Linked DNA regions of Homo sapiens: region 2 is linked to region 1. The links come from fine-mapping of genetic effects on gene expression. A gene starts in region 1. The other region holds a variant in brackets. All regions are shown on one strand. Distances are from middle to middle.

Evidence for each region. PIP is the estimated chance that this variant, and not a neighbour inherited with it, causes the effect. A credible set is the group of variants that fine-mapping cannot tell apart.
Region 2: its variant is the best candidate, but not a certain one, in a credible set for the expression of ZNF683 in pituitary (GTEx, PIP 0.77).

What each region holds. Positions count from the first base shown.
Region 1 is chr1:26,367,952-26,383,533 of GRCh38, reverse strand. It overlaps ZNF683 (zinc finger protein 683), which reads left to right and starts at 10,784. Exons shown (of 6, transcript NM_001114759.3): 1 at 10,784-10,865; 2 at 14,949-15,076. The coding sequence starts at 14,963. RefSeq lists an enhancer at 5,071-5,280 and a cis regulatory region at 4,603-5,496.
Region 2 is chr1:26,447,974-26,463,087 of GRCh38, reverse strand. It overlaps DHDDS (dehydrodolichyl diphosphate synthase subunit), which reads right to left. Exons shown (of 9, transcript NM_205861.3): 7 at 5,183-5,297; 8 at 2,944-3,051. It overlaps DHDDS-AS1 (DHDDS antisense RNA 1), which reads left to right. Exons shown (of 3, transcript NR_125953.1): 3 at 218-332. It also overlaps the pseudogene RPL17P9. Among named protein-coding and RNA genes, the nearest start is that of DHDDS-AS1, 12 kb to the left of the region's middle. The variant G/A (reference allele first, on the strand shown) is at 11,181.

The sequences.
Region 1 (15,582 bases):
AAAATTAGCTGGGCGTGGTGGCGCTTGCCTGTAATCCCAGCTACTTGGGAGGCTGAGGCGGGAGAATCGCTGAACCCAGGAGGCGGAGGTTCCTGTGAGCCGAGATCGCGCCATTGCACTCCAGCCTGGGCAACAAGAATGAAACTCTATCTCAAAAAAAAAAAAAAAAAAAAAGAATCATACAATTGCATACAATTGTGACTTTTTGTGTGTCTGGTTTATTTGCTTTAGCATAATGTTTTGGAGTTTCTCCACGTTGCAGCATGTATCAATACTTTATTCCTGTTTATGGATGAATATTCCACTGTATGTATGCACTACAATTTATCCATTCATCTGTTGATGGACATATGGGCTGTTTCTACCTTTTGGGCTGTTTCAAATAATGTTGCTATGAACACGAATGCATATGTGCTTGTTTGAGTACCTGTTTCCAATTTTGGGTATATGCTAGAAGTGGAATATGCTAATTCTTTACCTTTGAGGCACCACCAAACTGTTTTGCCATAGCACTTGGACCATTTTGCATTTCCACCAACAATGTATGAGAGTTCCAATTTCTCTACATCCTTGCCAACAACACTTGCTTTTTCTTTTTTTTCAAGACAGAGTCTCTGTTGCCCAGTGCAGTGATGCAATCTCAGCTCACTGCAACCTCTGCCTCCTGGGTTCAAGCAATTCTCCTGCCTCAGCCTCCCAAGTAGCTGGTATTACAGGCGCATGCCACCACACCCAGCTAATTTTTTGTATGTTTAGCAGAGACGGGGTTTCACCGTGTTGGCCAGGCTGGTCTCGAACTCCTGACCTCGTGATCCACCTGCCTTGGCCTCCCAAAGTTCTAGGATTACAGGGGTGAGCCACCGCACCCGGCCACCAACAATGCTTATTTTCCTTTATTTTATTTATTTATTTATTTTATTTATTTGGTTTTTTTTGAGACAAAGTCTCGCTCAGTGAGCCACCATGCCTAGCCTATTTTATTTTTATTTTAAAAAATATATATACAGCTATCCTACACTTCCTTTGATTGAATCTTATGAAGCACAAAGGCTTTTAATTTTGGTGAAATCCAATTTTCCTACTTTATTTTTTGTTGCTTGTGCTTTTTGTGTTGTGTCTAATAAAGCTTTGTCTAACCCAAGGTCTGAAAGGTTTGCTCCCATATTTTCTCCTAAGAGTTTTGGAGTTTTAGCTCTTACATTTAGGTATACGATGCATTTTGAGTTTAGTTTTGTATATGATAAGAGAAACCGACACAACTTTTTTTTTTTTTTTTTTTTTTTTTTTTTTGTGATAGGGTCTTGCTTTGTTGCCCAGGCTAGAGTGCAGTGGCCCAACCACAGCTCACTGCAGCCTTGACCTCCCAGGCCCAAGTGATCCTCCCATCTCAGCTTCCCAAATAGCTGGGAGTACAGACGCACACCACCACGCCCGGCTAATTTTTGTATTTTTTTTTGTAGAGAAGAGGTTTTGCCATGTTATCCAGGCTGGTCTCAAACTCCTGAGCTCAAGCGAACCTTCTGCCTCAGCCTCCCAAAGTGCTGGAATTATAGGCATGAGCCACACTGCACCCAGCCAGGGATACAACTCTTTTTGTATGTAGGTATTCTGTTTTCTTAGCACCATTTGTTGGTTTTGTATCCTGCAACCTTGCATTAGTTTCAATAGGTTTCTGTGGATTCCTCAGGATTTTCTTTCTTTCTTTATGTTTTTTTGAGATGGAGTTTCACTCTTGTTGCTCAGGCTGGAGTGTAATGGCGTGATCTCGGCTCACTGCAACCTCTGCCTCCTGGGTTCAAGTAATTCTTCTGCCTCAGCCTCCCAAGTAGTTGGGATTACAGTCACCCGCCACCGTGCCCGGTAAATATTTGTATTTTTATTGCCATGTTGGCCAGGCTGGTCTTGAACTCCTGACCTCAGGTGATCCACCTGCCTCAGCCTCCCAAAGTGCTGGGATTACAGGCATGAGCCACCGAGCCGGGCCTCCTCAGGATTTTCTATGTACAAGATTATGTCCTCTGTATATACAAACAGTTTTACCTCTTAATTTCTAATCTGGGTGCCTTTTTTTTTCTTTTTTTTTTTTCTTTCTTTTTTTTTTTTTTTTTGCCTAGTAGCCGTGGCTAGAACCTTTAGGACAGTGTTGAATAGAAGTGGTAAGGGTGGATATGGTCTCATTCCTGATCTGAAGAGGAAAACAACTCACCTCTCATCCTAAATTCAATCTTAGCTGTGTGCTTTTTGTAGAAGCCTTTTATCAGGGTGAGGAAGTTCCCTATTCCCAGTTTGGTGAGTCGTCTTTTTTTTTTTTTTTGAAATAGAGTTTCACTCTCGTTATCCTGGCTGGAGTGCAATGGCACGATCTCAGCTCACCCCGCAACCTCCTCCTCCCGGGTTCAAACGATTTTCCTGCCTCAGCCTCCCAAGTAGCTGGGATTACAGGCATGCACCACCATGCCCAGCTAATTTTGTATTTTTAGTAGTGACAGGGTTTCTCCATGTTGGTCAGGCAGGTCTTGAACTCCCGACCTCAGGTGATCTACCGACCTTGACCTCCCAAAGTCCTGGGATTACAGGCGTGAGCCACTGCACCTGGCCTGGTGAGTGTATTTTATCCCAAAAAGGAGTGGTGGATTTCGTCAAATCGTTTTCCTGCACCTATTGAGATGATCATGTCCTTTATTCCACTGCCATAGTATATTATAGTAATTGATTTTTGCATGTTAAACCATTTCTGGGATAAAACTCACTCACTCATGATGTATAACCCTTTTTATATGTTGTTGAGTTCTGCTTGCTTCTATTTTGTTGTGGATTTTTGTATTTGTGCTCACAAGAGATATTAGTCTGTAGTTTTCTTATGATCTTTGTTTTTTTTTTTAATTTTTAAATTTTTTTTGTAGAGATGGGTTTCACCGTGTTGCCCAGGCTGGTCTTGAACTCCTGGGCTCAAGCAATCTTCCTGCCTCGGCCTCCCAAAGTGCTGGGATTACAGGTATGATCCACTGCAGCAAGCCTGTCATTGTTTTTTGATATCAGGGTAATATTGGTCTCATAGGATGAGTTGGGAAATGTTCTCTCCTCTTCTGTTTTTTGGAAGAGTTTGTGAAGATTTGACATTATTTAAGTGTTTAGTGAAAACAGTCAAGGCCATGGCTTTGGAGACAGCTAGAAATGTGGAAAGGTCTTAGGCTCTGGGACCTTGGGCAGAGGCTGCTGAATCTGACACACAGACCTATTCTGATTGGCATACACATTACTTTAAGACATTGGAGAGCCAGGCGCAGTGGCTCACGCCTGTAATCCCAGCACTTTGGGAAGCCGAGGCGGGTGGATCACCTGAGGTCAGGAGTTTGAGACCAGCCTGGCCAACATGGCAAAACCCCGTCTCTACTAAAAATAGAAAAATTGGCCGGGCGTGGTGGCACGTGCCTGTCTTCCCAGCTACTGGGGAGGCTGAGGCAGAAGAATCTCTTGAACCCGGGAGGCGGAGACCATCAAGCTTCCGATGATCATGCAACAAAGGCTCCAGCCAGTTCCAGGTGAAGACACCACCCCTGGCCATCAAGAAGCTACCCTGTCTCCACTAGACAGTACAGGGTGAGAGTTCCATGATCTCCAATAGGGAGATCATGCCACTGCACTCCAGCCTGGGTGACAGAGCAAGACTCTGTCTCAAAAAAAAAAAAAAAAAAAAAAAAAGACATTGGAGCCATTCTTTTAAAAAATATGGAGATTTCATGTACAACTCCTGATTTTCAGATTCTCTGGAAAAGTTGGAAGACTGGCAACACTGGCCCCTGATTATTCTGAGTAGTGGCTGATCTTTAAGAATGGACCATGCTCTCTGGTTTGCCTCAGTCCCAACCCTTCCCTGTTGGAAGCTTGAAACCAAGACTGAGTGTCAGGAAACAATTTTATCATACTTATTCTTGGATCACTTTATGTTAACTACATGGCCACTGTAGGCATTTGAGTTGATACTACCTGGTATACCCTTGCTGAGTCTTGTCTGCTCATCCATAAAATGGAGACATTAAAAATTCCTACCTTGGAGAGTTTTTTTTTTTTTTTTTTTTTTTTTTTGAGATAAAGTTTCACTCTGTTGCCCAGGCTGGAGTGCAGTGGCAGGCACAATCATGGCTCACTACAGCCTTGACCTCCAGGGCTCAAGCAATTCTCCTGCCTCAGCCTCCCAGGTAGCTGGAACTACAGGCCCATGCCATCATGCCTAGTTATTTTTTGTAGGGAAGGGGGTCTTGCTATGTTGCCCGGGCTGGTCTCAAACTCCTGGGCTCAAGCTATCCTCCCACCTTGGCCTCTCAAATTGTTTGGACTACAGGTGTGAGCCGCCATGCCTGGCCAACTTGGAGAATTTTGAGGACGATTAAATAAGATGATCATAAAGAGATTTGGCATGTAGGAGGCATTGAGTAAATTTACCTCCTGCTTTTTCCTGGCTGCATAGTATTCTGATGCATGGATGTACATAATATGTAGCTTTCCTCTAATGGTAGACATATAGGTGGACTTTAATTTTGCCCCGTTCCACACCAGGCTGGAAAGGACATACATGTACATGGTGGGCAGTTTTGCACAGTGGCTCAGATTACATTAGCTCTGCTGGATTTGAATCCAAGCAAGGTGACCTCTTGTCTCCTATTCTCTTGGAATGGTTGAGGATAAGTGGCATGACCTTGGATATCATTTGAAGATGCATCTGCAATTTTACCCACAGAAGGATTGGAAGGTCACAGATGGGTGCAGGGGAAGACGCAAGAGTGTCTGTAGGCCCCTTCTGCAAATGTAAGAGCAGGCACGCCTTAACTCAAGATCTCTTCCCCACCTTGGGGTGTGAAGCCAAGGGCCAACTCAAATGCATCTGACAGACTGACAGCTGGGCTGTCTGGGGAGATAAGCATGTGGGTGTCAGGCAGAGGGAGGGAGGTGTCAACCACAGAGCAGAGCCAGGCAAGAGCACTGTCAGCCCCACCCTCAGCTCTGCCTGTGGAGGCACACCCTACAGCTGCTTAACCTCTAAGCCAGTGACGTCCCAGATCCCTTCCTGACCTGGGGTCCTTACCTGGTGCCTCTCAAAAGTGTCCATGTGACAGAGGTCCTGGACCCATGTGCTGAGCTGACTGGGAAGTCAGCTGGCTGGCCTCAAGGTTGGAGGTGGCAATGGATATGGGTTGAAGAAGTTTTTAAGGTTTTCAGGGAGGAAGTGGGGCTTCTGGCTGTGGTTCCGTTGTCTCCCTTTCTTGGTGCATGAGTCAGCCAACCCCACCCCCAGTTCTACTTTGCTCCTCCAGCCCCTACCCTCCTAATAATAAGCTCAGATGTACATTACTTTCCATTTCACAACATCCAGCAAGCTTCTTGATAGCCGGAATGTAATTCCAAGGTCTGAGTCATATTTCTATGGGCTGTATTCCCAGAAAATAGTCCAATGCCTGACACATAGCTGGTAATTAATAAATATGTGAATTACTTTGGGAGGCTGTTTGAGGGCAGGAGTTTGAGACTAGCCTGGTCAGCACAGCCAGACCCTGTCTCTACCAAAATACAACAAGAAAGAAAGAAAGAAAGAAAGAAAGAAAGAAAGAAAGAAAGAAAGAAAGAAAGAAAGAAAGGAAGGAAGAAAGAAAAGGCAAATAAATATGTGAATGAATGACGTTCTTGCAGGGTACCAGATGCTAATTCTGCAGCTCGTTTCAAGATGGCCTCTGTTTGTCTTAATTTTTCTGGGAGCCCCTTCTACCAAACATATTTGTGGCACTTTTTACTTCTTCAAATGCCTGGAAAGTCTTCCCTAAGCTCTCCCTCACCTCTGGGACTTACAACCTCAACTTGGGTCATGTGTTTCTTTTAAAATTGTATATATTTAAGATCTACAACATGATGTTTTGATACACATATGCTCAGTAAAGTGATTACTACAGTCAAGCAATTTAACACATCCATCACCTCACAGTTACCTTTTGTGTGTGTGTGCGGTAAAAGTACCTAAAATTACTTTTAGCAAATGTCTACTATATAATATTACTAACTATAATCCTCATGCTGTATGTTACAGCTCTAGACTTATTCATTCTAAGTAACTGCAACTTTGTACCCTTTGACCTTCATCTCCCATTTCCCTTACACCCCAGGCCCCTGCCCCTGGTAAAGACCTTTCTACTCTCTGTTTCTATGCTTTCCACTTTGGGGTCATGTGGTGTTTTTTGGTTTTTTTTTTTTGAGACTGAGTTTTGCTCTTGTCTCCCAGGCTGGAGTGCAATGGCACGATCTCAGCTCACTGCAACCTCCGCCTCCTAGGTTCAAGCGATTCTCCTGCCTCAACCTCTCAAGTAGCTGGGATTACAGGCACCCACCACCATGCCCGGCTAATTTTCGTATTTTTAGTAGAGACAAAGTTTCACCATGTTGGCCAGGCTGGTCTTGAACTCCTGACCTCAGGTGATCCACCCGCCTCGGCCTCCCAAAGTGCTGGGATTACAGGCATGAGCCACGCCCAGCCAGGTCATCTGATCTTAAGTGAGTCATTTTCCTTATCTGAGTGTCAGTTTTCTTGCCTCTAAAATGGGAATAATGGCATTCATCTCCCAGAGTCACTCTGCTGATCCAGTGAGACAAAGCGTGTGGAATGGCTTTGCATGGTTCCTGGCATATAATGAGGGCTCCCATGCCAAGAGCTATTATTATTGTGGTGTGTGGATGGGGTAGGAGAAGACTGCATTGAATGAGAGCAATGATCCCCAACCAGGGAAGGGTCAATAAATAAAGCAAGAAAACTAAATGTAGTTAATCTCTCCAATTGTGCTGCCCAAATTTCGATCTTCCAAAATGGGTCAGGAATAACCATCAAAATTTTAACACTTTTAAGAAGCTGACTTGCAGATGCTTGCCTAACTAGGTAAAGGGTAATGTACAATATAGTCATCCACATTGGTCAAGTGCTTGCTTTGGGCCAGGCACCATCCTAAGGGCTTTACATGGATTATCTTGAGGAAACCTGGAAATAATTCTATGAGGCAAGTGCTATTATTATCTCCATTTGACAGATGAGGAAAGATGCACAGAGAGGTTAAGTGATTTGCCATAAGTTTACCCAGTTGGGATTAAATCCAGCAGAGCTCGTATTCTTAACCATTCCGCATACTGACTCTGTCTGGAGGTCTTTTCCAGCCTTGTGTAGAAAGGGGAAAATTGGATCCCACCCGTATGTCCACCAACAGGGGAAGGCTACATATTAAGCACAACCCTGCAATGGAACATTATATAGTCAGGAAAAAGCAGGAGGCAGATAGGTATGTTCAGGGCATGAAATGATGCCCACAATGGATTATTAGAAAACCCAGAAGAGACTGGGCATGGTGGCTCCCAAAGTGTAATCCAGCACTTTGGGAGGCCAAGGTGGGTGGATCACTTGAGGTCAGGAGTTTGAGACCAGCCTGGCCAATGTGGTGAAACCCCGTCTCTACTAAAAATACAAAAAAATTAACTGGGCTTGGTGGCGCATGCCTGTAGTCCCAGCTTGAACAGGAGAATTGCTTGAACCCAGGAGGCAGAGGTTGCTAGTGAGCCAAGATCACACCACTGTACTCCAACCTGGGAGGCAGAGTCAGATTCTGTCTCAAAAAAAAAAAAAAAGAAAAGAAAAGAAAAGAAAACCCGGAAGAGCAATGTGCATCAATATATTCCCATGTTTGTATAAAACACAATTTAGCCTTTCAGCCCCTATGCTCAGGCCCACTCCAACACTGTGGAGTGTACTTTATTTTCAATAAATCCCTTCATTTCTTCGTTGCTTTGTTTCTGCTTTTTGTCCAATTCTTTGTTCAAGATGCCAAGAACCTGGACACCCCCCACCAGTGACATATTTTGGCCAGCCAGCCCGGAGGAAGGGCCGCTCAGGGAAAGAGAGCCCAGAAACCTGGCATACCAGCAAAAGGAGGCCATCAAGCTTCAGATGATCATGCAACAAAGGCTCCAGCCAGTCCAGGTGAAGACACCACCCCTGGCCATCAAGAAGCTACCCTGCCTCCACTAGACAGAACAAGGTGAGGGTTCCATGATCCCCAATAAGTAGGGACTACGCCCCATGCCAGCATGAAGCAGTCCCAGGAAAAAGACCATCGGTCCCTCTGCCTCCCGTGAAGATTTACGGGGACCACAATCACATCTCTTAGCGGGGAGATGAGGCAGGAAAATAGGGGCTGGAGGCAGGAAACATAAGGCCAATTCACACTTCAGCTCTGACAGGAAATAGCTTCTCCCTGAGTACATGACATTGTAACTTTACTTCATTCTCTTCATTTACATAGGGCGTACCACAAGCAGAAGGTATTTAAACTCTCAAAAACTCTGTAATGGGGCCTTTGAGCCCCTATGCTCAGGCCTGCTCCCACACTGCAGAGTGTACTTTCATTTTCAATAAGTCACTTCATTCCTTAGGAAAAAAAAAAGCAATTAAAAAAATCAATTTACCTGTTTGTTGGTTCATAGAAAAATGTCTGGAAGGGTAAACACTAAACAATTCACATTGACCACTGGGAAATTGCGAAGGAGGAGGAGCTTCCATTTTTCGTTTTTACATTTTCTGTTGTTTGAAATGTTTACCACTAGTATGTATTATTTTGCAACTAACGAAAGGAAGAAGAAAGTGTGCAGTGAGCACCGGGAGCCCAAGGACCCAGCCCCTCCAGCTCTTGTCCCCTAATGTGGAGGCACCTCCTCTTCAGAGGCCTCCCGAATGTGCCCCTTGCACCTGGAGTCAGCTCCCTACTCCCCCTCTGTCCGCACTTCCCAAACCCACTCTGGTGATCATGGGCTTTCCTTGGCTTGGGTCTCTGGTCTGGGTCAAGGCATCTGCTCAGGTTCCTCAGTTAGAAGACCATGGTCCTCCCTCTGTGCTACCTCCCCAGGGCATGTGGGACAAAGTGACATCACATTTAGGCCTGTGACATCACAGGGCATGGATGACACAAGACAGATGATCTGGGAGATGACAGCAAGGAAGGGCTTGGCAGGCAGAGGCTTCTCCACGTGGGAACCTGAGGGAGTCTGTCCTCAGCCCACCTCCTGGGGCATTTCCTAGCCAAGCCAGGGAGCTTTCAGGATTGGAGACCTGGAAATCTCCAAGGCCATTTCCTTTTTTATTTTTTTCTAACAGAGAGGTTGTGCAAAGTGTTCTGAGAGCTGGGAGCAGAGTGTGATGCCAGGAGGGAGCACAGCTGGCAGATGGAAGCCAAAGGTGTGTGGGGAAGTGCCTTGGAGGGGAGGAAACTTCACTCGGTGCCCCTCACTTCCCTGTGATTCCCAGCAAGACAGCAGGGGAGGCGGGCTTGTGGCCTGGGGGTCTGAGAGGGCTCTTCCTTTTAGGGAGTAGAGTTTTGGTGAACTAAGCCCCTCCATTACGCTGAAGGATACTGAGGGGGCCACTGAGGAGTTGGGGGAAGGACTGGGAACAGCATGTGGGAAGAGAGAGCAAGAAAGAAAGAAATGAGGGGGTGGCTGTCGTAGTGGGGGAAGCTGACATGGCCAAGAGATGGCAGAGTCTGAGGTTTACCACTAAAGAGCTCTTGGCTACTTGTTGTGTGACTCTGGATGAGCTGCTAATAATAAAATCCACCACACAGGCTTATTGTGAAGACTAAATGAGATAAAGTTTATGAAGCCCCTAGCACAGTGCCAGACACAGCAAGAAAGCTGTTTGTAAAGGTGGCTATTTACTCTGTTCCTTGGACAATTCCAGCTGGAACCCTGTTACTTTATCTTCTATTCTGGGCATGTATAATGCAGAATTATCAGTTGTAAGCTACAAAAACCATTTCAGGAGGAGTTAAGCAGAAGGAATTTGTTTAAAAGATGTTAGAAAAGCTCGCAGGAGGTCTGAGAAGGCTGGAGAGCAAGGCTTGGAGAATAGGATGGATCAAGGGAGGCTGGAAGTAGACAGGACCATGGCCAAATATCACACCCCAGGACCAGCCCTGCACAGATTCTGCAGCCTCCCCTGAACCCCCTTCTTTCCTTCACTGCCCTGGAAGCCGGATGTGGTACCACAGCCTTTGTTGTAGAGAGGAGTTTCCACAGACCTGCCACCTCAGGACCAGTGGCTTTTTTTATTGTATTTTATTTTATTTTGAGATGGAGCCTCACTCTGTTGCCCAGCCTGGAGTGTAGCAGAGCCATCTCAGCTCACTGCAACCTCCGCCTCCCGGGTTCAAGCAATTCTCCTGCCTCAGTCTCCCAAGTAGCTGGAAATACAGGCACGTGCCACCACACTTGGCTAATTTTTGTATTTTTGTAGAGATGGGGTCCCACCATGTTGGCCAGGCTGGTCTTGAACTCCTGACCTCAAGTGATCTGCCCGCCTCGGCCTCCCAAAGTCCTGGGATTACAGGCGTGAGCCACTGCGCTCAGCCAGTGGCACTAGCTTCTGATCTGCTAGTCTACTGGGCTGCAGTGGAGATTAATGGCTGCTTGGGGCTTTTGTACCCTGGGCCAGACTCACGCACACCAGAATTTGTGTGAGGCCACAGGGGTTATGCCTCTTCTCATGCTCACAAGACTCGGCTTGGCAAGGAAATGTCCCAGGAGGTGGGCTAAGACAGACTCCCTCAGGTTCCCACATGGAGCAGCCTCTGCCTGCCAAGCCCTTCCTTGCTCTCGTCTCCCAGATCATCTGTCTTGTCAGCCTCCATGCCCTGTGATGTCACAGGCCTAAATGTGATGTCACTTTGTCCCACATGCCCTGGGGAGGTAGCACAAAGGGAGGACCATGGTCTTCTAACTGAGGAACCTGAGCAGATGCCTTGACCCAGACCAGAGACCCAAGCCAAGGAAAGCCCATGATCACCAGAGTAGGTTGGGAAGTGCGGATAGAGGGGAAGTAGTTTTTATTTTTTTCTAACAGAGAAGTTGTGCAAGGTGTTCTGAGAGTTGGGAGCAGAGTGTGATGCCAGGAGAGGGCAGAGCTGGCAGATGGAAGCCAAAGGTGTGCGGGTCACCCCTTCTGGGTGGGGACATCTGATCGACCTAGTCCATGTATGCCTGCATGAAGTGCTGGTGAGGGAGGTTGGAATTAAGTATTTGGCCATTTCGGCTTTTATAATGGGAGGTACCTTTTGCCTCCCTCAAGACTCATGTAGGGGAAAAGTTTCAGAGGCTGGGCGTCCAAAAAAACCTGACAGATGTCTACATGGAAAACCAAAATGAGTAGACAGAGGACCCTGTCCTTGAGATGCTCACAAACATGTTGGGATCAGTTATGTGGAGGATGAGTCACAGCCCTAGGGGCTGAGCTGGCAGAGAAACCCCAGGAACATGCCCCAGCCCATGGTGCACAGCCTGAGATGTCCCTGTATATTCTGGGACACCAGGGTGGCGTGGCTGGGGTGCAGATTGATGGCTGGTTGGGGCTTTTGCACCCTGGGCCAGACTCACGCACACCAGAATTTGTGTAAGGCCGCAGGGGTGATGCCTCTTCTCATGCTCACAAGAATAATGACATTGCTCAGGCTAAAAAGCCACTTTCTGGCCTATGAGGTCTCCCTTTTTGTATCTAGACATGTCTTTTCCTTATTTATTAACTTTTTTTAAGACAGGGTCTCGCTCTGTCACCCAGGCTGGAGTGCAGTGGCATGATCTCAGCTCACTGCAGTCTCGACCTCCCTGGCTCAAGTGATCCTCCCACCTCAGCCTCCTGAGTAGCTGGAACAACAGGCATGCGCTACCATGCCTGGCTAATTTTTGTATTTTTTGTAGAGATGGTGTTTCACCATGTTGCTCATGCTGGTCTTGAACTCCTGGGCTCAAGCAGTTGGCCCACCTCAGCCTCCCAAAGTGCTGGGATTACAGATGTGAGCCACCACACCTGGCCTAGTCATGCCTTACACCCATTTTGCTATGTCTATTTTTTTTTTTTTTAAAGAGACAGGGTCTTTCTCTGTCACCCAGGCTAGAGTGCAGTGGCAATATCCTAGTTCACTGCAGCCTTATATTCCTGGGCTCAAGTGATCCTCCTGCCTCAGCCTCCTGAGTAGCTGGGACCAGAGGTGCAAGTCACCATGCCCAGCTAAGTTTTGTATTTTTTGTAGAGATGAGGTCTTGCTTTGTTGCCCAGGCTGATCTCAAACTCCTGGGCTCAAGAGATGGGTCTGCCTTGGTCTCCTGAAGTGCTGGGATTACAGATGTGAGCCACTTCACCTGGCCATGTGCTTGAATTATCTTTTGCCTCTTGGGGCCTCTAGATTAGAGGATAGAACTTTCCAGGGTCAGGAGATCTGAGATGGGACTTGGAGGAGGAAAACGTGTTTGCTGTATCTCTGTGAGATCAGCTGCCTTCTCTGTCCTCTGTCTCATTCCATATCCTTCTATGTTGCCTGTTCTTGTCTCTGCCTGTTCCTGTCCCTACCTGTCACCATCACTGTCTCCCTGTCATCATCAATGCCTATCTTCATCTCAGCTTGGCTCCCCTCCACAGAAGGCTCCCCTGTTCAGCCTTTGAGCCCTACTCTGTCCTCCCGTCCAGCCATCTGGGTACTTTGAGAACAGAAATAACAGCCCGCCCCCCTCACACACACATCCTGAAATTCCAGTAGCCCCAGTTCACTGCAATCCACATCAGCAGGTTGTCCTCCAGAGTTGCCACAGGTAGGCAAAGCTGAGTGGATAGTGCCCCCTTGTCAGACCTTGCAGGGCCCCCAAGCCTGCCTGCCCCCACTTCCTATCTGTGGCAACTTCAAATGTAACACCTTCCTGCCATCTCTCACTCCCACTGGGGCCTCAGCCACAGGCAGCTGTGGCCTGGCTGCCCACCTCCTTCCTTCCCAGCCAGGAGCACTGCTGCAGCACCGAGTGGAGAGCCCCACAGCCAGCAGCCCTTCGGGGGTCCATGGTATTTGCTTTGAGACCTGAAGCAGCGTTGGGAGGAGTGAGGAAAGAGGGAAAGGAGAAGGGGTTTTAGAGGGCTGAGACACTGGAGTGAGGGTCTTAGGGTCTGAGGGGCATTTGGGATTCAAAGAGTGGTCCCTGAGGTGACGGGGAAGGGGTCTTGGGGCATTTGCTGGGCTGAAGTGTTCCCTGTGCTGTGTGGCCTCAGGTGGAAGATGGCAGAGAAGCCTGGTGCTGGATGAGCAGACAGCTGGGCACTCGCGTCTCTCTGTCAGGCCAGTCAGGGGCATCCGGGGGCTTGGTCCACTCATTCAGGCTTTATTCCTGGTGAGAGCGCTGAGCTGGGCAGCCTGGGTGACACGACACTGAGGTGTCCTCAGCTGTCCAGAAGAGCTATCTGGGTGAGCTAGGATGCAGGATTCCCCTTGGTGGGGGGCCTCTGGTTGGTAGAGTCAGGGACCCCTCTCAGCACAGAAGGGGGTGGCTTCTTTGTAGCCCTGAGGAATCTGGAATGTTCCCTCAGATCTCTGCACTTACTTGGAAGTAAGCTCCGTGAGGGCCTTCCTCTCCTCTCAGGAGAGCTCTGCTCTTCACTTCTGATTGGCTAATCTCCATTGATTGATTGATTGATTGATTGATTGAGACAGGGTCTTGCTCTATCCTCGCCCAGGCTAGAGTGTAGTGGTGTGATCTCAGCTCACTGCAGCCACAACCTTCCAGGCTCAAGCAATCTTCCCACCTCAGCCTCCCAAGTAGCTGGGACCACAGGCACAGGCTACTACACCCAGCTAATTTATTTATTTATTTTTGAACCGAGTCTCACTCTGTTGCTCAGACTGGAGTGCAGTGACATGATCTCGGCTACTGCAACCTCCGCCTCTTGGGTTCAAGCGATTCTCTTGCCTCAGCCTCCCTAGTAGCTGGGACTACAGGTGTGAGCCACCACACTCAGCTAATTTTTTTTTTTTGGAGACAAAGTCTTGCTCTGTCACCCAGGCTAGAATGCAGTGGTGCTATCTTGGCTCACTGCAACCTCTGCCTCCCGGGTTCAAGCGATTCTCCTGCCTCAGCCTCCTGAGTAGCTGGGATTACAGGCGTGCGCCACCACACCCGGCTAATTTATGTAGTTTTGGTAGAGACGAGGTTTCACCATGTTCGTCAGGCTGGTCTTGAACTCCCAACCTCAGGTGATCCGCCCGCTTCAGCCTCCCAAAGTGCTGGGATTACAGGCATGAGCCACCGCACCTGGTCTAATTTTAATTTTTGGATTTTTAGTAGAGATGGGGGTTTCACCATGTTAGCCAGGCTGGTCTCGAACTCCTGACCTCAGGTGATCCATCTGCCTGGGTCTCCCTTTTATTTTTTATTTTTTTATTTATTTTATTTTATTTTTAGAAGGAGTCTCATTCTGTTGCCCAGGCTTGAATGCAGTGGCACGATCTTGGCTCACTGCAACCTCCACCTCCCAGGTTCAAGTGATTCTTGTGCCTTGGCCTCCTGAGTAGCTGGGATTATAGGCATGCACCACCGTGACTGGCTAATTTTTGTATTTTTAGTAGAGACAGGGTTTCACCATGTTGCCGAGGTTAGTCTTGAACTCCTGACATCAGGTCATCCAACCGCCTTGGACTCCCAAAGTGCTGGGATTACAGGCCTGAGCCACCCCGCCCACCATATTTTTTATTTTGTAGAGATGGGGGTCTCACTATGTTGCCCAGGCTGGTCTAGAACTCCTGGCCTCAAAAGATCCTTCCTTCTCAGCCTCCCAAAGTGCTGGGATTACAGGCTTGAGCCACGGCACCTGGCCAATCTCTATTTAATCTTCCCACACCCACCAGGAGAGCATCACTGGCTTCTAAATGTCAACATTGAGAGAATCCTTACGCATCAACTAGACCAACCTTCCCATTTTGCGGATAGGGAAACTGAGTCCAGGAAGGGACATGAATAACTTGTGGTCATGCAGCATGTTAATGGGAGAGCCAGTCCTAGAACTCAGACTCCTATTTGGAGGACCTTCACAGCTTACCTCTAACTCACCTGTTTCCCAGCAGGTAATGGGGATATGAAGGAAGAATCAGCTGCACAATTAGGTTGTTGTCATAGGCCCATGGCCCTGGGAGGTACAGGGGGCTCCCTGTCCCCCAGCCTGGACTTCCAGCTCTTCCGAGGTGACCAGGTAAGGTAGAACCCCAGCCTTACCTTTGTGGGTAGTCTGCTTATAGTAGGAGGTGACATTAGGAGGAAAAAGGGGAACGTCTGAAGGGACCTAGATCTCCTTCCCAGTCTGAGCACCCCCTATCCCAGGCACATCATAGGGATGTTTCTTTGAGGAGCCAGACACCCTCTCCCCATGCCTCAGGGGCCCAGACTCTCCTGTGGGGAATAAGAAGCGGAAGCCTCGTGCAGTAGGCTTGGCTGCTATGACCATGGCCTTGGGCCTTAGTGAGCAGGGGCTCAGGGCCATCTTGTGGAGTTTATAGTCTTTGATGGGGATTTTCTTTGTGCTCAACTTGGTGCCATTCAAATTACAGTGATGGTCTGAGATACACTGGGGACCAGGGTGGTCAGAGGTACATGGGTTCGGGGCAGGGAGGGAGAACAGGGCTAGAGAGGGCCCTGGGGACAGGAGGAGGGCAATCTTGTGGTGGGTGGGAAAATCCTGGGGGAAAGAGATCTTTGGAT
Region 2 (15,114 bases), 80 kb before region 1:
AAGGCTCTATATGAGCCAAGGTCTGACTCTAGCCTCATTTCCTGCCCTTCTCCCTTGGCACATTGACCTCTTTTTTGTTCTTCCAAGACCCAAACTTTAACCTCAGTCTCTTTGCATTCTCTTCATTACTTTCTAGCACATCACTCTGTATTCTTCACTGCCTTATTACAATCGGAACTTATATATTTGTTTACTTGTTTATTTCTGTCTCCTCAAGAATACAAGTTCCACAAAGGTAGAGATCTTGTCCCTCTGGCTACCTGTTGACTCTCCTGTGCCTAATACAGTGCCTGATTCATACTACTCAATAAATACTTATGGAATGAATGAAACTTGAGTTAACTCCTCTGACAACCATATGCAAAGTATCTGAGAAACGTGAAATTACTATAAAAGACTTCTGAGCAGCCCAATTAGAGGTAAAAACACAAAAACTCATGCACCAAGCTCCTTTGGGCTTCATGCAGAGCCAGTTCACTCTCATTTTATATACATAATTCCAACAAGCTTGACTATCTGGTTTCCTTGTCTATAGCTGATTTAAAACAGTAAATACTATGGAAGAGGAGAGATACTGTCAAAATTAACTGTTGACAGCAGTAGGAAATGAAAGAGGGAGGACACAGAAAAATATACATGAAACCTCAAACCCAGGTATTCTGGGACCATCTAACTTAGAGCAAACAGCCCTACCCCTCAAGGATATTGTTGTACAATGAAGTGTTTAAAGATGATAATTACTATTATCATAATCATTAGAATATGACGGCCAGGCATGGTGGCTCATGTCTATAATCCTAGCACCTGGGGAGGCCGAAGCAGGAGGATCACTTGAGCTTAAGAGTTCAAGACCAGCCTGGGCAACATAGTGAGGACTTATCTCTACAAAAAATAACAAAAATCAGCCAGGCATGGTGGTGTGTGCCCATAGTCCTAGCTACTTGGGAGGCTGAAGTAAGCCAAAGTTGCACAACTGCACTCCAGCCTGGGCAACAGAGTGAGACCCTGCTAAAAAAAAAAAAAAACAAAAAATAGCACGTGATTATCCTAATCATCATCATTATTAGCAAGTGCCTGGTATATAGATTTCAATGAATTATGTACAAGATACATTTTAGAAATTTTTCCATCAAAAAAGGGTAAAGTTTTAGTTTTTAGAGGGAGCTTTGGTCATATGGAAAAATCTGATATTCATTCCCCACTGACAGTGGATAATTGTGCCTTTGCTGTTTTTCTTTTCACTAATTCTAAACTTCTTTTAATTTCCTCATATTCTGAGACTAAGTAATTAAATACATGATCAAGTCTTTGTGATTTGATTTACTTATAGCAGGAGTTATGGACTTGGGATTCAGGGGCAGATTTCAGCAGTTATGTGAACCCCCTTAAAGTATTCTATGTGTGGCCGGGCTTGGTGGCTCATGCCTGTAATCCCATCACTTTGGGAAGCCAAGGCGGGCGGATCACCTGAGGTAAAGAGTTCAAGACCAGCCTGACCAACATGGAGAAACCCCATCTCTATTAAAAATACAAAATTAGTTGGGATTGGTGGCGCATGCCTGTAATCCCAGCTACTCGGGAGGGTGAGGCAGGAGAATCACTTGAACCCGGGAGGCGGAGGTTTCGGTGAGCCGAGATTGCGCCATTGCACTCCAGCCTGGGCCGCAAGAGCGAAACTCCGTCTCAAAAAAAAAAAAAAAAAAAGTATTCTATGTGTTTCCATGATAAGTTTACAATTCTATGCAAAATTCCACATTTGAGTGATCTGCGATTTTTCTAGGGAGATGGTCTGTGGCTTTCATTAGATTATTCAAAGGGACCCCAATACCAAGGAGATTAAGAATCCCTGACTCACATCATTATTTCCTCCTGGCATTATCTCTCCAGACTGAAGAAGCAGCACCAGCTTTGATTTTAAAATTCAGGCTCTTCACGCCTGTAATCCCAGCACTTTGGGAGGCCAAGGTGGGCGGATCACCTGAGGTCAGGAGTTCAAGACCAGCCTGGCCAACATGGTGAAACACTGTCTCTACTGAAAATACAAAAATTAGCCAGGCATGGTGGCGTGTGCCTGTAATCCCAGCTAGTTGGGAGGCTGAGACAGGAGAATCGTTCAAACCCAGGAGGGGGAGGTTGCAGTGAGCCCAGATCGCACCACTGCACTCCGGCCTGGGCAACAAGAGCAAAACCCCATCTCAAAATAAATAAATAAATAAAGATAAAATTCAGGTTCCTTGGGACAGTTACTTAAGTCTCTCTGCCCCTCTGGTTCCATATATGAAAAATGAGGACACCAAAACTGCTGGGTTGTTAGGTTAAATAAGAAAACTTACATGAAATCACCTAAGTGCCCTCGTAGATCCTCATATGTTAGCTACCACTACCATTATTATAAAGAGACCTAATCATATACAGGTGACTGCTAATAAAACCTGTTTCAAGATTTGGTGATGAAAACTGAAAGTCAAACTTCAAGTCTTGACACAACATAGGTTTACACAATGGAAAGACAATGCTATTTAGTTCTTAATCCCTACTGCTACGATCTTTTATTAGGGTAATACTTTAAAGGAATAATGGCCAGTTTCTCTGAGAAGCCTTTTCCTCCTGAGTCTTTAAAAGATAAAAGACCTGTAGCTCAAATCCTATTCCTACCTCTTACTGATTATGTGTCCTTAACTAAATCATTTCTGTTTGCTTACTTACATAAGGGAGGGGCTAATAAGACTTCCCTCATTGGGTTCTTGGGAACATTAAATGAGTTGCAGCATGTAAAATGTTCGCAGTGCCTGACAAGTAGTAGATACTCAGTAGGTGGTAGCTACTATCATCATTATCATCATCTTATTAGGAAGTGCCTGGTATATAGTAAGGTGGTTGTCAATCAATGCTAATCTTTTCTTCCATCCCATCCCATCTGGCCAGCCCTGAACTCTTTCTTACCTGAAGCACGCTATGGTTCATCTGGAACTGCAGGATGGCCTCGAAGAGGTTCCAAAATGTATACTCTGGCCACAGAACGGGTTGGAACACCAGGCAGGAGTGAGAGGTCTGGGAAAGGTAGGGAGGAGAGTATGATTTAGTAACATGTTGCTGGGCCGCATCCCTGGTCAGTCCTCCAGGGAAAAAGCAGGCTAAGCAGGACCCAGAAGCCCAGAGATGACAATGTTACAGGCATCCTGAGCTGTAGCTGCAGCTGCTGCTGGCCCTGATTCATTCACTAGTAGGGGGAGGCGTCACTTGAGGCAGCCAGATCACCTGCCTGTGGTAAAGCAGAACTAAAACGAGACTAGATCAACATTTCCACCAGGATTTTTCTAAGAGCCAATTTTAGGACTATGAAATAACATCTGGATTATGTTATTGGCTCTTGGCCCTTAGAGGGCATCTGGAAGACATACTGTCTGATAAAGGTCACCAATGAACAAATGGTAGCTGCCATTGTTATTTTTAAGTACCAGCAGCAGGGCACAGTGGTTGAGAGCATGAGCTCTGGAGCCAGACTGCCTGGCTTTGAATTTTGGCTCCAACCATTTACCATTTATTTGAGCAGGGGTAATTTCACCTGGCCTGAGATTCCTCAAATGTAAAACTGGATAATAGGAATACCTAATTTTCAGGGTACTGTTTAGATTAAATGAGATAACATATGCATAGCAAAGAGCCAGGTGTACTTTAATAATAATCACTGATGAAGAATCCCCTTTGGAACACTCTTGACAGCCACTGCCTGATATCTCTAGTGGTGAGGAATTCAGTACCTCATGGGGGATAACTAGTTGTCCGATAGCCTGTTTGGCTTTTTATGCTAAACCAATGTCACCTTCCCTACAACTTCTACTAAGGTCCCAGGTATTTTTTCTGGAACAAGTTTGTTTCTTCTTCAAAGTGACATTCTTTCAAGTATTTCAAGGCTAGATTAGAGCTGCCTGTTATCAGTTCCCAAAGTTGTAATGACTTGTTCAGAGTTTGTCTTTGCTAGCAAACTATAAGTTTCAAGACAGTAGGGATCATTTCTGACTCACTCACTGCCATATTTCCAGCATAAAGAAGGAACTCAACACTTTTTTCCAAGGGAATACATTGTCACTTATTTCCCTTTTGCAGACCACTATCCTTTCCTCATTTTTTGTAAGACATGAGATTCCTTGCTTTCCAGTTTGGCCTCTTCCAGTAAGTCCTCAAGTTTGTCAATGTAACTAATTCTGTACACTGAGTAACTGACTCTGTAGTCTCTTAAAATTCAGCCCATCAGTAAACTTCCCAAACGTGATCTGAGCAGCACAGTGGGCCACAGAACCAATAGGTGCACATTGTACTTATTTCTTTTCTTTTTTTTTTTTTTTTTTTGCGACAGAGTCTCACTCTGTTGCCCAGGCTGGAGTGCAGTGGCACGATCTCGCCTCACTGCAACCTCTGCCTCCTAGGTTCAAGTGATTCTCCCACCTCATTCACCTAAGTAGCTGGGACTACAGGCACCTGCCACCATGCCAGGCTAATTTCTGTATTTTTAGTAGAGACAGGGGTTCACCATGTTGGCTGGACTGGTCTCAAACTCCTGACCTCAAGTGATCTGCCTGCCTCAGCCTCCCAAAGTGCTAGGATTACAGGCGTGAGCCACCACGCCCTGCGTTAGCTCACTTTTAAGATTGTGGTCCATTAAAATTTCTGGAGCTTTATCATGTGAGCTGCTTCCAAATGGAGTCTCTCCCAGAACAAGGACTTCCCCTAGTTATGTGCTCTCCAGGGACCAAGTTAACAGGGGATAGAGACTTGAGTGTTTGCATATTGTTTACCATGCTTGCATAGGTATGGCCCTTTATCCTGAAGGGGAGGGACTAGTAACTGCAAGGCAAGCTTCCAACCCAGAGGGGCTAGGGTCCCTGGCAGGTTACCAAGGCAAGAGCTTACGCTCAGGGATGCAAGACAGAAGTCCCATTCCTTGAAAAGCGGCACAATGAAGTTTTCACTATAGTTGGATTCGCAAAGCCAGCGACAGATGAGGAATGGACATCAAATATTATGAGACACAGCCTAGAGATGCTTCTCCAGATTTTAGCTTTCCCCAGAAGTACTCTGGCCCCAGCCTGTTTGGGAGTGGGGATGGACCACTCTGATCCATTCTGTGGATACAGTTGGTTTCCCCATGACACAAACATAATAGTACTTGGAAATGACCTACCTGCCATAGCAAGAAGTCACTCAGCCGCACTTCTCCAGAAGTCCGTATCAAGATGTCAGGATGAGGAGAGCGGTTGGTATAGAGGCACTTATCAAGCAGAGACTCAGAGATATCACTAAGATGAGCAAGAAGAGACAAAGAGAGGCACACATCCTGTAGTATTCTCTTTCTGTAGTGTTCTCATGGTGAACTTCCATATATAGGCTTCTCAGTTTATACAATACCATCAAATACACTAGCCAATACTACACAGAAGGCCCTCAAAAAATGTTTGCTAAATTAATGAATGAATTTAAATCTTCACAACTACATAAGGTATTTCTTTTTTTTTTTTTTTTTTAGAGAATACAATGTAAAATTCTTTTCTCTTTTTTATTTTTTGCCTTTTTTGACATGTTCTGATACATAAGGTATTTATTTATTTATTTATTTATTTGAGATAGAGTCTCACACTGTTCCCCAGGCTGGAGTGCAGTGGCACGATCTCGGCTCACTGCAAACTCTGCCTCCCAGGTTCATGCCATTCTGCCTCAGCCTCCCGAGTAGCTGGGACTACAGGTGCCCGCCACCACACCCTGCTAATTTGTTTTTTTTTTTTTTTGTATTTTTAGTAGAGACAGGGTTTCACCATGTTAGCCAGGATGGACTCGATCTCCTGACCTCGTGATCCGCCCCCCCCTCGGCCTCTGAAAGTGCTGGGATTACAGGCATGAGCCACCATGCTCAGCAGATACATAAGGTATTTCTATCCTCATTTTATAGATAAGGAAACTGAGGCTCAAAGATGAATAATTTGCTGAAAGTCATTTAGCCTCAGGCCTAAAACCAGATGCACCCACAAAAATATCTGTTGTCTTTTGCTAAAAACATCTTGTTTTTTAAAATACATACATACATCCTATGGCCCAGTATTTGATGAAATACTATGCAACTGCATTCTAAAAATAAAGATAAATCTAAATGCACTGATTTGGAAAGATGTCCAAAATCTAATGTTAAATGTAAAAGGCAAGTTTCAGAGAATATATAGTATAAAACATACACACACATTCAAACATTCACACGTGCATATAAGTATACATAAAGAACAAAGTCTAAAAAGATACATCATACTATTAACAGTGGATTGGATAAGAAGTAAGGAAGAAAAGACTATTTCTTTTTACTTTATGTACTTCTGTTATTGTTTGAATTTATGTAAATAACTTTTTTTGGCCAGGCGTGGTGACTCATGCCTGTAATCCCAGTACTTTGGGAGGCTGAGGCAGGCAGATCACCTGCGATCAGGAGTTTGAGACCAGCCTGGCCAACAAGGTGAAACCCCATCTCTACCAAAAGTACAAAAATTAGCTGGGTGTGGTGCCGCATGCCTGTAGTCCCAGCTACTTGGGAGGCTGAAGCAGGAGAATCGCTTGAACCCAGGAGGTGGAGGTTACAGTAAGCCCAGATTATGCCACTGAACTCCAGCCTGAGTGACAGAGCGAGGCTCTGTCTCAAAACAAAAAAAAACAGAAAACATATTTTATTTTTTTTCCAGACAGGGTCTCCCTCTGTTGCCCAGACTGGAGTGCAGTGGTGTGATCTCAGCTCACTGCAACCTCCACCTTCCATGCTCAAGCAATCCTCCTACCTCAGCTTCCCAAGTAGCTAGGACCACAGGTGTGCAACACCATGCTCAGCTAATTTATTTTTAAAATCTTATTTAAGTCATATGGATCCTGAAACATTGCAAAAATTCCACATTACACCGGATTTTAAATAAACAGCAATATGATCAGTTCTCCTGTGTTTGATAAGAGCTACTTTCCCAAGCACAGAGATGGTCAGAAAGGAGATAGAATTGAAGAAAACTGGTGAGTGGAAGCATTTATCTTAAGTAAAACTATCCTGTCCACAGAAAGAGGGTATTTGCATGGCTGGTGTCTGTTGGCTCCAAGAATGCTGTTTACCTGTCCTACCAACTACCCAGAAGCAGAATTCAGAATGTCCAGGTAGTTAGAGTTACATCTTGGAAAGGGTCCAGAAGACAAAAATTTCTTGGTGGGAACATGTTTCTGGACGCATGGTCAGGAAAGCAGAAAGATCTGGGCTGAGTGTTCAAAACCAGACTCTACACTTACTAGTTGTGTGTCTTTAGGCAAGTTATTCATCTTTTTTTTGGAGATGGAGTCTTGCGCTGTCACCCAGGCTGGAGTGCAGTGGCGCAATCTTGGCTCCCGCAACCTCCACCTCTCGGGTTCAAGTGATTCTCTTGCCTCAGCCTCCCAAGTAGCTGGGACTACAGGCAGCCACCACCACACCCGGCTAATTTTTGTACTTTGAGTAAAGACGGGGTTTTACCATGTTGGCCAGGCTGGTCTTGAATTCCTGAGCTCAAGTGATCTGCCTGCCTCGGCCTCCCAAAGTGCTGGGATTACAGGTGTGAGCCACTGCACCCAGCCAAGTTGCTCATCTCTCTCAGTCCTTTAAGGCAAACCACAGAGAGAGCTTTCTTTTCCGTATCATCATCACAGAGGAAACAGTATTCACTTATAATTGAGCAATAAGAAGGGCTCTGGTTCAGATTTCTCTGGTAATCTGACAATCTTGTCTTGGCAGCATGGTCTTAATTCTCCAAGTTATGTGAGACTCTGTACAATCCATATAATTTCTCATTCTCTTATCTTTAAAATGGGCCCATTTGCTCTTTCCCTAAGCGGCCTGAGGTAATCTGTGAAAATGGTTCACTATTCACTTAACCCGGAGAACCTCATGATATCATGCAAATCAAGAGGTTCCAATCTTCGTGTTTACTTTAAGAATATTCGTGAAACTGCCCAGGCCATCAAGGGTATGCATATACGAAAAGCCATGAAGTACCTGAAAGATGTCACTTTACAGAAACAGTGCGTACCATTCCGACGTTACAATGGTGGAGCTGGCAGGTGTGCCCAGGCCAAGCAGTGGGGCTGGACACAAGGTCAGTGGCCCAAAAAGAGTGCTGAATTTTTGCTGCACATGCTTAAAAATGCAGAGAGTAATGCTGAACTTAAGGGTTTAAATGTAGATTCTCTGGTCATTGAGCATATCCAAGTGAACAAAGCACCTAAGATGTGCCGCTGGACCTACAGAGCTCATGGTTGGATTAACCCATCCATGAGCTCTCCCTGCCACATTGAGATGATCCTTACTGAAAAGGAACAGATTGTTCCTAAACCAGAAGAGGAGGTTGCCCAGAAGAAAATGATATCCCAAAGAAACTGAAGAAACAAAAACTTATGGCACAGGAGTAAATTCAGCATTAAAATAAATGTAATTAAAAGGGAAAAAAAAAAACAGGGCCCATTTGTCCTATCCACCTTATAGGTTATCATGAGGGTCAAATCAAATGAAATAATAGATTTGAGTGCACTTTGGGAACTATAAAGTGCTATATAAAGAATAATAATAAAAAATTATTTTCAGTCCCACCAACTTGCAGTGTGACTTCAGAGACTCAGTCTCTCTGAGTTTACAATTTATCTGCAAAGAGTTTCTTCTACCTACTTTAGGCAGTAGGTATGCAGTAAGAATTCTGCAGTGGGCAGAATTCTTAATGGAAAAAGCTGATATTGTGCCAGTGCATTCCAGCCTGAGTGATACAGCAGACTGTGTCTCAAAAAAACAAAGGGGTTGGCCAGGCGCGGTGGCTCACGCCTGTAATCCCAGCACTTTGGGAGGCCGAGGCGGGCAGATCATGAGGTCAGGAGGTCGAGACCATCCTGGCTAACACGATGAAACCCTGTCTCTACTAAAAATACAAAAAATTAGCCGGGCGTGGTGGTGGGCGCCTGTAGTCCCAGCTACTCGGGAGGCTGAGGCAGGAGAATGGCGTGAACCCGGGAGGCGGAGCTTGTAGTGAGCCGAGATTGCACCACTGCACTCCAGCCTGGGTGACAGAGCAAGACTCCATCTCAAAAACAAAAAAAAAGGGGTTAACTCTAGGGTGGAAAGATGAAACTGACAAAATCAAAATGGAACATCTGTAGACTTTGGCCAACAAAAATCCATCACTAAATGGAATGGTGAGTTAAAGCTGTCTACGTGAAGACTTTTCGGAAATGATTTACATTAAATAACGGTAAAATATCAGTTTTTACCTATGAGAATAGGTTTATTTTTTTGTTTTATTTTTTGAGACAGGATCTGGCTGTTACCCAGACTGGAGTGCAGTGATGTGATCTTGGCTCACTGCAGCCTCAGCCTCCTGGGCTCAAGCCATCCTTCCACCTCAGCCTCCCAAGTAGCTGTGACTATAGGTGCATGCCACCACACTCAGGTAATTTTTGTACTTTTAGAGACGAGATTTTACCATTTTGCCCAGGCTGGTCTCGAACTTATGAGCTCAAGCGATCCAACCTGCCTCAGCCACCTAAAGTGCTGGATTACAGGTATGAGCCACTGCACCTGGTCAGAACAGTTTACATTTAAAAAATCTTGGCAAGAATAAGGTGAAATGAGCACTTTCAAACTCAGATCCTGAGGAAACAATAAAAAATGCAGGCAAGTTCAGTCAAAGATTTAATTGTGGCATTATTTGTAATAATGAAATATTAAACTGCCTATATACCCAACAAATAGAAGACTGGTTAAAGAAATTAACACAAGATATATTTTACAGCCATTATAAATAATGATATGAAGAATTATTAAAAACACGGGTCATGAAAAGTACTCGTAACATTGAATGATAAAAGCATGATTCAGAGTGTAAACTATTCATTATGTGATTTCATGTGTTATAAATATTTATGTCAAAAGTGAGTGTGTGTGTGTGTGTGTGTGTGTGTGTGTTTCAGACAGGGTTTCACTCTGTTGTTCAGGCTAGAGAGCAATGGCGCAACCATAGCTCATTGCAGCCTCGACCTGCTAGGCTCAAGTAATCCTCCTCACTCAGCCTCCCAAGTAGCTACAGGTGTGTGCCAGCACACCCAGCTAACTGTTTTATTTTTGTAGAGACAGGGTCTTGCCGTGTTGCCAGGGCTGGTCTCAAACTCCAGGGCTCAAGCGATTTTCCTGCCTCAGCCTCCCAAAGTCCTGGGATTACAGGCATAAGTCACCATGTCCATCTAATTTTTTTCTTTTTTACTGCCTTATTGTTCATTTCAGCTTTGCTATGAGGAAGTCAATATGCCACAGTGAATGAGAACACAGGCTCTGAAGCCAGGTTGAAATCTTGGCCCCCAGGTTTGCCAACTATGTGAACTTGCACAAGTTACTTTTCCTCTCCATGTCTCAGTATTCTCATCTTTAAAATGGGCATAAAAACAGTATCTACCTTATAGGGTCTAAGGATAAATGTATGTGGAATACTTAATGCTTGGAACAGAGTAAATGCTCAGTAAGTGTTAGCAATTACTATTAACACTATTGTTTTATAAGAAAGACAGAGGCCTACAGGGAATCAAGTAGCCCGTTCAAGGTAACACGGTGGAATAGAATTTATTAACTATCCTTTGGTCTCAATCTACTTCCTTCTTCTATAATTTCCAGACTCACAAAACAATCTATTAATTTAACTGCTAAAAAAATACATATATACCTCGGTCAGGTGCCGTGGTTCAAACCTGTAATCCCAGCACTTTGGGAGGCCAAGGCAGGAGGATCACTTGAGCCCAGGAGTTTGAGACCAGCCTGGACAACATGGCAAGACCCTGTCTCTACAAAGTCAAAAAATTAGCCAGATGTGGTAGCAGTATCTGTGGTCCCAGATACTCAGGAAGCTGAGGTGGAAGGATCTCTTGAGCCCAGGAGGTCTAGGCTGCAGTGAGCCATGTTCATACCACTGCACTTCAGCCTCAGCAACAGAGTGAAACCCTGTCTCAAAAACAAAACGAAACAGGCCAGGTGCTATGGCTCACACCTATAATCCCAGGACTTTGGGAGGCCAAGGTGGGCAGATCACTTGAGGTCAGGAGTTCGAGATCAGCCTGGTCAACATGGTGAAATCCCATCTCTACTAAATATACAAAAAATAGCC[G/A]GGTGTGATCCCAGCACTTTGGGAGGCCGAGGCAGGCAGATCACGAGGTCAGGAGATCGAGACCATCCTGGCTAACATGGTGAAACCCGTCTCTACTAAAAATATAAAAAAATTAGCCAGGCGGGGTGGCAGGCGCCTGTAGTCCCAGTTACTCAGGAGGCTGAGGCAGGAGAATGGCGTGAACCCGGGAGGCAGAGGTTGTAGTGAGCTGAGATTGTGCCACTGCACTCCAGCCTGGGCGACAGAGCGAGACTCTGTCTCAAAAAAAAAAAAAAAGAAAAAAAAATAGCCGGGTGTGGTGGTGTGCACCTATAATCCTGGCTACTCAGGAGGCTGAAGCACGAAAACTGCTTGAACCTATAAGGTGGAGGTTGCAGTGAGTTGAGAGCGTGCCACTGCACTTCACCCTGGGCAACAGAGCAAGACTCCATCTCAGAAAAACAAAAAAACAAAAATACACACACACACACACACACACACACACACACACACACACACACACATCTACATACATACCCTGGAAGAAAGAAAAATGAGGAGTTGGATGGTGATAGTGAGAAATCAGGAAAATTCCAGCTATTAGAAGCATAGGACCTAATTGTAATTAACGCACTGACTTTGTTATAAATGCAGGTTTGTCTAAATTCGAATAATATAAAGTGTAACGCCTCAGGCCCTGATTAGCCCAGTCTGAGCACACCAAGCTTCAGGAGTTGGTGGGTTGAGACATTGGCCTCCTGACCCTGGTGATACTGCCCAACCCACACCCTGTCTGCATAACTAACCCCACAGAGGCAAGTTACTAAACCATGCAGGACAGAGAAGGATATGGAAAAACTTGCTGGACAAGAAGCAGGAGATAAGGTAGTGGTTACTGTAATGTGGTATGAGGGTAAAGCATGCTGGACTAGGAGTCAAGATCAGAGTCCTAGGCATAATGCATATTAGATCTGCTTGTCAAATGGCTTTCTTTCATTCTAGTGTCAACCCTTGTGCCTTAATATTTATTTCATACATACAAGAATATTTGAAACATATTCATTATAAAGCACAAAAATATAATGAACTACGAAAGTACCTCCAAACTAAGAATTTTATTGAAAACATGCTTCTATTTCTATACCCCTTTTCTGTCTCATCTTCCTGCCTGCTCTCTACCTCTGCTAACTCCACCAGTCTCTTAATTGTTTTAACAACAGCTGATTTTCACTCTACATCTTAATTGACCTCTCTACAGCATTTGACACCATTGTTTCCATGGGTGCCCTACCCCTTCCCAACTTGCACCAACAAACTCCCTCTTTTCTTGGCTTATGTAATGCTGGCTGCCCTGGTTTTCTTCCTGCTTTTCTGTGTTTTTGCTTATAAAGCTTATTCTCCTCTACCCAGCCAGTAAAGGGTAGAGTTCCTCAAAAATGCCATCTTAGGCTCTTTCTTCTTCTCACTCTACACTCCTTAACAGGCAGGGCTGAGTGGCTCACACCTGTAATCTCAGCATTTTGGGAGGCCAGGGCAAGAAGACCACTTGAGGCCAGGAGTTCAAGACCATCCTGGGCAACAAAGTCAGACCCTGTTTTTACAAAAAATAAATATAAAAAGTTAGCTGGGTAGGTGGTGCACGTCTGTAGTACTGGGTACTTGAGAGGCTCCTTTGAGACCAGGAGTTCCAAGCTTCAGTGAGCTTTGATTGCCCCACTGCACTCCAGCCCAGGAGACAGTGTGAGACCATCTCTAAATAGATAAATACACAGATAGACAGACAGACTCTCCTTAGCTTTCTCATCCCCTCTTTGCTCAAGTTAACCTATACACAGATGGCTTCCATACTGGCGACAGAGATAAACCCTGTCTGAACTGTTGACCTGACATCTCTGTCTGACTGTTGACCTGACTATACCAATCCCTCGCTGAACTGTTGACCTGACATCTCTGTTCAACATGTACAGGATATCCAAAACCAAACTGCTGACCCTTTTCAACTGGATTTTCTCTCAGGGTTACCTAGCATGGTGAAGGGCACCACTATCCACTGTAACGTAAGTCTAAAACCGCCGGGCGCGGTGGCTCACGCCTGTAATCCCAGCACTTTGGGAGGCCGAGGTGGGCGGATTACCTGAGGTGGGGAGTTTGAGACCAGCCTGGCCAACATAGTGAAACCCCGTCTCTACTAAAAATACAAAAATTAGCTGGGCATGGTGGCATGCCCCTGTAATCCCAGCTACTCAGGAGGCTGAGGCAGAAGAATCGCTTGAGCCCAGGAGGCGGAGGTTGCAGTGAGCCGAGATTGTACCATTGCATTCCAGCCTGGGCAAGAGTGAGACTCTGTCTCCAAAAAAAGAATTAGCTGAGCATGGTGGCACACACCTGTAGTCCCAGCTACTTGGAAGGCTGAAGTGGGAGGACTGCTTGGGCCCGGGAGGCACAGACTACAGTGGGCCGAGATCACACCACTGCACGCCAGCCTGGGCGATAGAGTGAGTCCCTGTCTCAAAATAAAAATAAAAATGGGCCAGGAGTGATGGCTCATGCCTGGAATCTCAGCACTTTGGGAGGCTGAGGCAGACAGATCACTTGAGGTTGGGAGTTCAAGACCAGCCTCGCCAACATGGTGAAACCCCGTCTCTACTAAAAAATACAAAAAATTAGCTGGGCACGGTGGTGGGCGCCTGTAATCCCAGCTACTTGGGAAGCTGAGGTGGAAGAATTGCTGGAACCTGGGAAGCGGAGGTTGCAGTGAGCCAAGATCTCGCCATTGCACTCCAGCCTGGAGACAGAGCGAGACTCCATCTCAAAAAAATAAATAAAATAAAAAATAAAAATAAATAAATAAAAATAAAATATTTGTTGAATGAATGAACTATGTGACAGAGAAATGTCACCCAGCTGTTAGGAAGGAGAGGCATTCATAAAATAGCCTCAAAAACTGTCTCCTCTCCTTTTTATCTAATTCTATTCTCACCAAGTAACTTTTTGATTTTTAATCTAGTTTCCTAGGTCAATCGAATCGGGAAGGGAACCAGAAAAATTCCTGCTTCCCAAGATCCCACATAATAGAGGTAAAGGATAAGAACCCTAAAATCAAACAGCTTTAGATATGAGTCCCAGCTCTGGCACTTACTAGTAGAGTGACCCTGGGCAAGTCACTTCAATGCTGAACTCAGTTTTCTCATCTACACAATGGACAACAGCCTTGAATCTCTCACACATAAGGTTAATGACTTAATGAAATACAGAACACAACACATCTCCTGGGTTATTTTTTGCTACTATTATTTTACTATTGCTGTTAGTTTACAAATATATTAAAAGTTACATAAATAATAACATGAGAGGGACCAAATATTTAAATGGCTTCAAAAGTCTCTCCACCTTTAATAATTAGGATTCCACTATGTTGACAATAATTAATAATTTTCTTTTTGAAAAATCCCTGAATCGGCTGGGCATGGTGACTCACGCCTGTAATCCCAGCACTTTGGGAGGCTGAGGCAGGCAGATCACGACGTCAGGAGTTCGAGACTAGCCTGGCCAATATGGTGAAACCTGTCTCGACTGAAAATACAAAAATTAGCTGGGCATGGTGGCATGCACCTGTAGTCCCAGCTGCTTGGGAGGCTGAGGCGGAAGAATTGCTTGAACCTGGGAGGTGGAGGTTGCAACTCCAGCCTGGGCAACAGAGTGAGACTTTGCCTCACCAAAAAAAAAAAAAAAAAAGAAAAGAAAAACACCTGAATCTTGTGTGGAACTAGAACATGAGAGACCTAAAGAACTCTAGCCCCAACAAACTGCATTCATGAAAAGTCATTCTTGGAAAAACACTACCAAAGGGCCAGGAGGGTATAATTTGTAAAGGAATAATAACATGGCTTTGTCATCTGCTTTGCTCTTTCTCTGGGGTTTCTTGGTGTGTGGTGAACTCTAGTTCTGAAGCAGG